3 linked regions of the Homo sapiens genome follow. The protein of the gene in region 1 purifies or fractionates together with the protein of each later gene. This does not show direct contact. Each region holds a gene or a part of one and is shown in the gene's direction. Other genes may lie near its edges. The genes, in order: TMEM126A, TUBGCP2 and IPO7.

Region 1 (3,194 bases):
ACCTATATATAAAGCAATTTTTAAGATTTTGGTTCTATAAGGGATAGATGTCGTATCCAGTTAGTGTATTCCCAAAGTCCTATAACACATGTCAAGATCGGGAAAGCTCACACACACAATAATGCCAAAGAAAAGTTCTTTCTTCTCACCCTTTCAGGAATCTACTTGAAAATGGATCGGTTTATGTTGGATTAAATGCTGCTCTTTGTGGCCTCATAGCAAACAGTCTTTTTCGACGCATCTTGAATGTGACAAAGGCTCGCATAGCTGCTGGCTTACCAATGGCAGGGATACCTTTTCTTACAACAGACTTAACTTACAGATGTTTTGTAAGTTTTCCTTTGAATACAGGTAAATTCTACTTCACTATCACCAAAGAGTTTGCCTTAGTATATGTTATTTGCAGCTTTAGTCCATACTTATTAATATCAAGTAGCTGTATGCTGTAATGCAGTTAAGATTAAATCTTGCTAGCCTATATAATGTGGCAAATAATTCATATTAGTATGGTCTACCAACCAAGATGCACATACACAGCAGTTCTAAATACTTTTTCTTTAATTGAGATGGAGTTTTGCTCTTGTTGCCCAGGTTGGAGTGCCCTGGCGCAATCTTGGCTCACTGCAACCTCCACCTTCTGGGTTCAAGCAATTCTCCTGCCTCAGCCTCCTGAGTAGCTGGGATTACAGGTGCCCACCACCATGCCCGGCTAATTTTTTGTATTTTTAGTAGAGACAGGGTTTCACCATGTTGGCCAGGCTGGTCTCAAACTCCTGACCTCAGGTGATCCACCCGCCTTGTCTTCTCAAAGTGCTGGGATTACAGGCGTGAGCCACTGCACCCGGCAATACTTCCCTTTTTCTAACATATCTTTCTCACAGTGCTCATTTAGAGTAAGAAATATTTGGAAATCCATATATACATATATATGAAAATTATATATATGGAAATATTATATATATACAAATGTATATAAATAATATGTTGGCTACCTTAGATTTTTTATTTATATTTTATAGAGAAGTTCCTTAAAGGGGGAAAATATTTTTATGGGAATAACTCTTTATACAGTAAATCTCTTAAAGCACTAAATGCATATACATTTATCAAATACATGGAGATTTGATTTCCTTTTGAAAATCTACCATGTGTGCTGAATACTTTGAGTACAGTTAATCATAAAAAAAACTTTTGATTAATTATTTCAAATAAAAATATTACCATGGGTGCTAGGGAAGGCAGTCCATCTAAATTTTGTTAAGTGCTGCTCCAAATTTGTTTAAATTTGACGAGTATTTTGTTTTAATTCCCATGACCAGTGGAAACAATTTCTATGATCAAGGAAGACCTATCGCCCATTTAATTGAACAGACTGAGTGAAAATATTAGCCTAGGTCTGTTGATAAAAAACAAGGCAGAAAGCTAGCAGTAGCCCAAACCATGAGATTATTATATCTAAGTTGAGAACAAATTAGAGAACTTTTTTTCCTAAAATAGTTTTACCAATTATTCCTAGCTATTTTAAGTTACTCATAGATGTAATTATACCTTTTAACAGGCTTTGTACAATTACATTTGATATATTACCTGAAAAATACCTGTGATACACAAAAGAGGATCTTACATTCTTTAAATCATGTTTGCTTGACTATCATGACCTTCATTTCTATGACTAATTTATTTCCTAGGTGATTTGGATTGTGAAACCTGTACCATAACACGGAGTGGACTGACTGGTCTTGTTATTGGTGGTCTATACCCTGTTTTCTTGGCTATACCTGTAAATGGTGGTCTAGCAGCCAGGTAGGAAATAAAAAACTTTTTATAATATGTGATTACCTATAAAACTCACAACTTAAAGCAGCAAATATATTTTGTTTTTAAGGCATTTAGACCAAAGGCAATGTTACCCTCTTGATTAGAAGTTAGCAAGACCTGTTTTTTCTTATAATGAAATTCTACTTATCAAGAATTTCAAACAGTTATACTTGGTGTGTAGTTAGGCTATTAACCTTAATTTGTGTACTGAATACTAAACTAACTACAAAGCTGCAAACAGTATTATGCATGAAACTTCTATCATATAAACAATTATCTTGGATGAGTTTGAACACTTGCACTAAAGGAAAATTCCATCAGAAAATGTCTAGCTGTTATATTAGCCTTCTATTCTAAAATAATTCTGGCTATTCTCTGTTGAACTCTTGCATCAGCAATCTATGCTATAGCCTTGAAGCAAACTGGATAAAGAAACAAAAGTTTTTAGGATTAATAGACACTGAAGACCTTTACTTTAATATTCAGTTTTATCTTAAGACTTCTAGGACTAATATGTATCACAGATGGGTTTGCCATTTGATGCAACAATCTTTTCTATTGAACTATCTCAATGTTTTCTTACAGGTATCAATCAGCTCTGTTACCACACAAAGGGAACATCTTAAGTTACTGGATTAGAACTTCTAAGCCTGTCTTTAGAAAGATGTTATTTCCTATTTTGCTCCAGACTATGTTTTCAGCATACCTTGGGTCTGAACAATATAAACTACTTATAAAGGCCCTTCAGTTATCTGAACCTGGCAAAGAAATTCACTGATTTTAAACAAATATGTAAACAAAAATAAAATGGTAAAAACAGTTTATGTCTAATGTTATGTCTAATGTTATGCATAAACATAGACTTGTAATTTATCACGAGGTATAATTCTGGGACCTACAACAAAAGGCTACACAGGGCAACAAAAGGCTGAATCTAAGTAAAAGCTACCCACTTAAACAAGTTTAACTTCACGAGTTTGCCCAGTATTGTCTCTTCTACCTTGCTTGTTCTACCTTAGGCGTTGAGTTTGGTCTGTAACACAAGAGGAAAAAGTAACTATATAGTATTTTACACTGAAGACTTCATAATGACAAACAGGAATAAAAAATGAAAAAATATCTATCAATATACTATACCAAATGTTACTCACAATTCACTTTCTCAATTCAAATTATTAATCCATAGATTCTTAGAACTGATTTAACAACCTTCCTCAAATCAATCATCTTCTTGAGTCATTCAGGCTCAGCTTCAGCTATTATGATATAGACCTACCTACTTCGAGTCACCTTATTTAGAAAGCTGTATTTTTAGTTTAGGTAGTCTTTCAAGCTTCCATTTATTGTGGCATATTTAGAATCACAAAATTAACTAA
Region 2 (3,656 bases), on another chromosome or scaffold:
CTAGGGCTTCCCCTTTTCAGAAGAAGCTTGGAGAGGACGTGTCCTTGTTCAGGGTCCCACAGCCTAGAAGTAGCCACGTCAGTGTCCAGACTGCATGGGGCTCCATGGCGCGTGCCCTGCTGGCCTTGTGCTTGAACTGTAGTTACCGTGAGCACCTCCTGGGTCAAAAGCATGTGTGTGAGCAACTCAGCACCATGCCTTCTTATCGCTCTCCTTCCATTTTCGGAGATACCCTGCCTGTGACCAGTATTTGATGTTCATCTACAGATAAACTGTCTTCCATCACACAGGATTAGAATCTCGGTGTCGAGTCCCGTGCTAATAATCGTTAGTGAATTAGCATATTGTGGGAGTATGTGCTGAGTCTTCTGTACTCTATTGTAGGGACCAGCCCCACAGGGTCGGTGGGTTTTTCTCCTCGTGTGCGGAGATGAGAGATTGTAAAAATAAAGACGCAAGACAAAGAGATAAAAGAAAAGACAGCGGGCCCGGGGAACCACTACCACCAAGACGCAGAGACCGGTAGTGGCCCCGAATGCCTGGCTGCGCTGTTATTTATTGGATACAAAGCAAAAGGGGCAGGGTAAAGAGTGTGAGTCATCTCCAATGATTGATAAGGTCATGTGTGTCATGTGTCCACCAGACATGGGGCCCTTCCCTGTTACGTAGCCGAGGCGGAGAGAGAGAGGACAGCTTATGTCATTATTTCTTCTATGTTCTTTTCAGAAAGATCAAAGACTTTAATACTTTCACTAATTTTGCTACTGCTATCTAGAGGGCGGAGCCAGGTGTACGGGATGGAACATGAGAGCAGACCAGGAGTGTGACCGCTGAAGCACAGCATCACAGGGAGACAGTCAGGCCTCCGGATAACTGCGGGCGGGCCTGACTGATGTCAGGCCCTCCACAAGAGTTGGAGGCGTAGAGTCTTCTCTAAACTCTCCGGGGAAAGGGAGACTCCCTTTCCCGGTCTGCTAAGTAGCGGGTGTTTTTCCTTGACACTGACACTACCGCTAGACCAAGGTCCGCTTGGCAAGGGGCATCTTCCCAGACGCTGGCATCACCGCTAGACCAAGGAGCCCTCTGGTGGCCCTGTCCGGGCATGACAGAAGGCTCACATTCTTGTCTTCTGGTCACTTCTCACTATGTCCCCTCAGCTCCTATCTCTGTATGGCCTGGTTTTTCCTAGGTTATGATTGTAGAGCAAGGATTATTATAATATTGGAATAAAGAGTAATTGCTACAAACTGATGATTAATGATATTCATATATAATCATATCTATGATCTAGATCTAGCATAACTCTTGTTGTTTTATATATTTTGTTACACTGGAACAGCTCGTGCCCTCGGTCTCTTGCCTCGGCACCTGGGTGGCTTGCCGCCCACACTCGATGTTTTGTTGAGCTCATCCTTGTCTCCCTGAAGCTGTCAGCAGAGTGGTTGTTTACCTTTTTTGGGTCATAGAGCCTTTGAGAATTTGTTGAAGGGTCATCTCCTCAGAAAATAAAAAGTTATTTTGCCCATAACTTTCAAGGGCTCATCTGTTACTGATTACTCATGGATACCGGCTTAAGAACCCTTGTGTAGATGAAATGTTTGTGAAGCATGTAAAGTTTGCTTATATTTGTTTTGTAATCTATAGCCAGTTGCCTTGCCTGTGTTTTTTGTTTTGTTTTGTTTTTTGTTGAGACAGGGTCTCCCTCTGTCGCCCAGGCTGGAGTGGCTCAAGCGATCCTCCCACCTCAGCCTCCCGAGTAGCTAAGACTACAGGCATATGCTACCATGCCCAGTTAATTTTTGTATTTTTTGTAGAGACAGAGTCTCACTGTGTTGCCCAGGCTGTCTTGACTCCTGGCCTCGAGTGACTCACCTGACTCAGCCTCCCAAAATGCTGGGATTCCAGGCGAGAGCCACTGCACACAGCCATGTGTTTGTCTTAATGGCCTTGTATCGGAACTCTTGGTGACAGAGGCTAATGAGCAGCCACTGGTGGGAGAGTAGGGGCGGCGCTCACCCTGCCCCCTGACCCAGGGGTGGGCTCACCCTACACCCTGACCCCACGCAGTGTTCTGCTGCCCACTTGGGTGTCTGTGACGCCTTCGATCTCATATGTGTTATATGTCTCCTGGTGAGCCCCTGGGGCAGCTGGAGCTGCAGTGGAACTTCACCTAGCTCAAACGTGTAGGGAACGTGTAGAAGTCCTACCAGAAGCGTCTCTGTCGGTAGCCACGCTTGGGCAAGAAAAGGAGATGTCACGGGTACCAGAGTGAAAAAGTAACGCAGAGCCGGCCAAGTGAATGGAGCTGCGGCTGAGCACCGCGGGCTCTGAGAACCAGTGTGGGCCTCTCCGGTAGAAGCTGGGATGTTACTGTGTGTGCCGGTAGCTGGCACAGTGTCAATGGCTTGGGCCTGCACAGAGCTCCCTGTGTAGACCCCACAGGCCTCACGTCTGGGACCAGAAAGCTCTGTCCCCAAGCCGAGGCGAGCAGCAGAGCATTCCCTGCTGGCCCAGACCCATGTGTGGAGGGAGGTGCAGGGGAAAGGGAACCTGGGTCTCAGGCCCCATTCATGCTGCCCACGGGGCTGGCTCCCGGAGCTGCGGAGGCCGCCTGGAAGCTGGAGGCAGGTGAATCCCAGGCCCACCCAGAGGACCCTCTGAGAGGCTGCTGGGGTGTCGGGGAGGGGCCCTAATCCCAGGCCCATGCAGAGGACCCTCTGAGAGGCTGCTGGAGTTCAGGGAGGGGCCCTAATCCCAGTCCCGTCCAGAGGACCCTCTGAGAGGCTGCTGGGGTGTTGGGCAGGGGCCCTAATCCCAGGCCCATGCAGAGGACCCTCTGAGAGGCTGCTGGGCTGTTGGGGGAGGGGCCCTAGGCCAGGCAGGCCAGGTGATAACTTGGTTTGTCAAAGCCTGACATTGGCCAGTCTTGAGTGTTTAAAAAAATGTTTTTTATTTCTACAGTTTGAATTTTATGAATAGCTGTCTTCTTACCTATAGGAGAACATATTGTGATGTTCGTGCCTCAGAGCTAAAACTATGAGTGAATTTCGGATTCACCATGACGTCAATGAACTGCTTAGCCTGCTGCGTGTCCACGGAGGAGATGGGGCTGAGGTCTACATTGACCTGCTTCAAAAGAACAGGACCCCGTACGTCACTACCACTGTCTCTGCTCACAGTGCCAAGGTGAGCACTGCCCTTGGTGTAGCGCTGTGCAGGGTGAGCACTGTTCCTGGGTCAGGGTGGTGCAGGGTGAGCCCACCCCTGGGTCAGGGTGCAGGGTGAGCGCCGTTCCTGGGTCAGGGTGGTACAGGGTGAGCACCATTCCTGGGTGAGGGTGCAGGGTGAGCCCACCCCTGGGTCAGGGTGCAGGATGAACACTGTTCCTGGATCAGGATGGTGCAGGGTGAACCCACCCCTCAGTCCATGTGCAGGATGAGCGTCGTCCCTGGGTCAGGGTGCATGATGAGCACCGCCCCTGGGTCAGGGTGCAGGGTGAGCGCCACCTCTGGTGCAGGGGGCAGGGTGAGCGCCACCTCTGGTGCAGGGTGCAGGGTGAGCGCCACCTCTGGTGCAGGGTGCAGGGTGAGCGCCACCTCTGGTGCAGGGCTGTGCGGGGTGCAGGGTGAGCGCCACCCCGGGGTCAGGATGGTGCA
Region 3 (3,656 bases), about 76 Mb from region 1:
ACTCCGTCTCAAAAAAAAATAAAAAAATAAAAAATAACAACCTTATGGAGTGTACAACTCAGTGGTTTTTAGTTTATTCACAGTTGTATAACTATCACCCCCAGAAGGAACTCTGTATACATTAGCAGTCACTCCACATATCACCCCAAATCTCCCAACCCTAGGCTACCTATAGTCCACATTTTTTCTATGGATTTGTTTATTGTGGACATTTTATATAAATGGAATCATATAATACGTAGCTCTTTGTGGGTGACTTCTTTCATTTAGTGTAATGTTTTCAAGGATTATCTGTGTTATAGCAGGTTTCAGTACTTTTTCCTTTTTGTTGCCAAATTATATTTCATTATATTAATATACCACATTTTATTTACTCATTCATTAGTTGTTTCTACTTTCTGGCTGCTTACAAATGTTGCTGTGAACATTCATGTTTAAATTTTTATGTGGACATACGTTTTCATTTTTCATGGGTATATACCTAGGAGTATGAATTGCTTGTCATAATTTGAGACACCGCAGAACCCATTTTCCAACGTAGCTATACCATTTTATATTTCTGCCAGCAGTATATTTTGATTATAGCCATCCTAGTGAACGTGAAGCATTATGTCTTTGTGGCTTTGAAATTTTTCATGTGCTTACTATCCGTTTGTATATTTTCTTTAGAGAATATCTATTCAAATTCCTTGCCCCAAAAAAATTGCTTGCCTTTGTTTTTTTTCTTTTTATTTTTTGAGATGGAGTCTTGCTCTGTCACCCAGGCTGGAGTGCAGTGGTGAGATCTTGGCTCGCTGCAGCCACCAGTCTCCCACATTAAAGTGATTCTCCTGCCTCAGCCTCCCAAGTAGCTGAGATTTCCGCCTCCCCGCCCCCCCGCCATATGCTGGAGTGCAGTGGCGCAATCTCGACTCACTGCAACCTCTACCTTCCGGGTTCAAGTGATTCTCATGCCTCAGGTGCCTGCCCCCAGCCTAATTTTTGTATTTTTAGTAGAGATGGGGTTTTGCCATGTTGGCCAGGCTGGTCTCAAACTCCTGGCTTCAGGTGATCCGCCTGCCTCAGCCTCCCAAAGTGCCAGGATTACAGGCGTGAGCCACTGTGCCTGGCCCTTGCCCATTTTTAATTGGGTTATTTGTCTTTTTATAATTGAGTTGTTAGAAATCTTTACATTCTAAAGCCAGGCACTAAGTACTCACAGAATATTTAGTCATTGTGTCTTTTATCTTTTCGTTTTTTGGAAATGGAGCCTCGTTCTGTTATACAGGTTGGAGTGCAGTGGCGTGATCTCTGCTTACTACAACCTCCACCTCCTGAGTTCAAGCGATTCTCCTGCCTCAGCCTCCCGAGTAGCTGGGACTGCAGACACCTGCCACCACACCAGCTAATTTTTGTATTTTCAGTAGAGATGGGGTTTCACCATGTTGGCCTGGCTGGTCTCGAACTCCTGACCTCAGGTGATCCACCCGCCTCGGCTTCCCAAAATGCTGGGATTACAGGCGTGAATCACTGCACCCGGCCGTCTTTCATCTTTTCTATACCTGTTCACCCATCCTTCTCTTTGTTTATAAAGTATGTATTAAAGACATTCTAATCATTTGTGGCATAGAAGGCTGAGAATTAGTGAGTTCTCTTGGCAAATTCAAGTTTATCTATTCTTACCTTTCACTCAGCTTCACTTAGTGGTAATACCTTACATAGGTAGGCAAAGTTATCAAAAACATGAAGTTGATTTTGGTATGCTACTATCAACTAATCCATGGACCTTTTTAAAGTTTCACAAGATTTCCCACTATGTCCTTTTTTCTGTTCCATGACCCAGTCTAGGGTCTCACATTGCATTAAGTTGTCATGTCTGATTATGTAAGTGTTGATATATAAGTGTCTTATGTTTTTAATGTTGATTTAATGTGCAGTTTAAGGAACTCTTCTAAAAAGCTTCTTTCCACTTAGAAAATACTCACTTTGAATACTGAGAGTGCCTTTTTAGAGAATCACTTGAATCTGGGAGGTGGACATTGCAGTGAGCCGAAATTGTGCCACTGCACTCCAGCCTGGGCAACACAGCAAGACTCCGTCTCAAAAAAAAAGAAAAAAAAAAGAGTGTGCCTTTTTAGATAGCCAGTTTATTCGTTTGAAAGCAGGATTTTTCTCAGGTTATGTTATTTTCAGCCAGAAACTTTATCAGACAAGTTTTTTCCTTATAAAAGTTTCATAGTAACAGATAAAATTAACCAAACTTACATCATTCGAACACTATTGCTGGTAAGATTTGGCATAATGGCTTTCTAATCAAGGAATATAAAAACGTGAAAATGTGTTTAGTGGTTTTTGGTGGTGAAGTTCTGGAATACGAAAATTGGTTGTGGATTCTGGGGTTCAAAGAATGAGAATAAATATATGTAACATTAATAGTCATTTTTAATAGTGTTATATCTGTTTGGAAATTGAGATGATTATATTTGGAACTGTATCAAAATAACTGTTGTTTATATTTACAGAAAAAGATCTATAAAGATCAGATGGAATACATGTTGCAGAATCATGTATTCCCTCTCTTCAGCAGTGAACTAGGCTACATGAGAGCAAGGGTATGTTTTAAAGCTGCATTATTTATATACTTTTGTCTTGTAATGAATGACTCTGTGGACTTTTATATTGAAACTTTTAAATGTTCACTTTGAAGCCTGTGTCTTATTTTAGGTTTCTGTTTAATGTAAATCTTTACATGGCTGCTGTAATGTGTGCATAGGTTTCATCTGTGTCTGGTAGCAGTGTCTGTCTGTGTTTTTCATTCAGATCTTGCTATCCACACAAACATCATGCGGCCAAAGAGTAACTTGGGATCATAGTACTGGTCTAGTGTTGTCTCTGGACACATCTACCACTGGCCAGCCTCCAAATTCCCACACACAGAACTCAGGGAATAGAGATTAGCTTGGGGGAATTTAAGGTAAGGTATCTACAGTAACTCACTGTGTTTTTACAAAAGGCTTGCTGGGTACTTCACTATTTTTGTGAAGTGAAGTTCAAAAGTGATCAGAACCTTCAAACAGCCTTAGAGCTAACAAGAAGATGTCTGATTGATGATAGAGAAATGCCTGTGAAAGTGGAAGCTGCCATTGCCCTTCAAGTATTGATCAGCAATCAAGAAAAAGGTAAAGGATTTTTGTATGTCAAGAAAAGTGAATGTTGGCCAGGTGCGGTAGGTCACACCTGTAATCTTAGCACTTCGGTAGGCTTAGGTGGGAAGAGCGCTTGAAGCCAGGTGTTCAAGACCAGCCTGGGCAACATCTCTACAAAAAAAATTTTTAAAAATTAACTGGACATAGTGGCATGTACCTGTAGTGCCAGCTACTTGGGAGTCTGAGGCAGCAGGATCACTAGAGCCCGACGGTTCGAGGCTGCAGTGTGCTACGATTGCCACTACCCTCCAGCCTGGGCAACAGATCAAAACCCTGCCTCTTATAAAATATATATATATATATTAATTGTAAAAAGCCATAATCCTAGAAACTTGGCATACTTCCTTTTTATGTGAAAGTACTTTTTTAAAAAACTCATCGATATTTGTTATATCAGGTTTTAAGAAGTTTTAGGGGTTTTACGCAAGTTTTTTACTCTTTCTCTTACAGCTAAAGAATATATCACACCAT

The links.
Region 2: the proteins of TMEM126A (region 1) and TUBGCP2 purify together in Homo sapiens (affinity purification with mass spectrometry; one large-scale study listed by BioGRID and IntAct). This does not show direct contact.
Region 3: the proteins of TMEM126A (region 1) and IPO7 purify together in Homo sapiens (affinity purification with mass spectrometry; one large-scale study listed by BioGRID and IntAct). This does not show direct contact.

What each region holds. Positions count from the first base shown.
Region 1 is NC_000011.10:85,653,906-85,657,099, forward strand, and holds the end of TMEM126A (transmembrane protein 126A), read left to right. Parts: intron 1-157; coding exon 158-351; intron 352-1,688; coding exon 1,689-1,803; intron 1,804-2,403; coding exon 2,404-2,596; 3' UTR 2,597-2,637; downstream 2,638-3,194. UniProt on the Homo sapiens protein: Protein required for the cotranslational protein quality control in the inner membrane of the mitochondria.
Region 2 is NC_000010.11:133,302,322-133,305,977, reverse strand, and holds part of TUBGCP2 (gamma-tubulin complex component 2), read left to right. Parts: intron 1-2,997; 5' UTR 2,998-3,036; coding exon 3,037-3,186; intron 3,187-3,656. UniProt on the Homo sapiens protein: Component of the gamma-tubulin ring complex (gTuRC) which mediates microtubule nucleation.
Region 3 is NC_000011.10:9,426,039-9,429,694, forward strand, and holds part of IPO7 (importin-7), read left to right. Parts: intron 1-2,501; coding exon 2,502-2,591; intron 2,592-2,727; exon of another isoform or gene 2,728-2,916; intron 2,917-2,992; coding exon 2,993-3,158; intron 3,159-3,635; coding exon 3,636-3,656. UniProt on the Homo sapiens protein: Functions in nuclear protein import, either by acting as autonomous nuclear transport receptor or as an adapter-like protein in association with the importin-beta subunit KPNB1.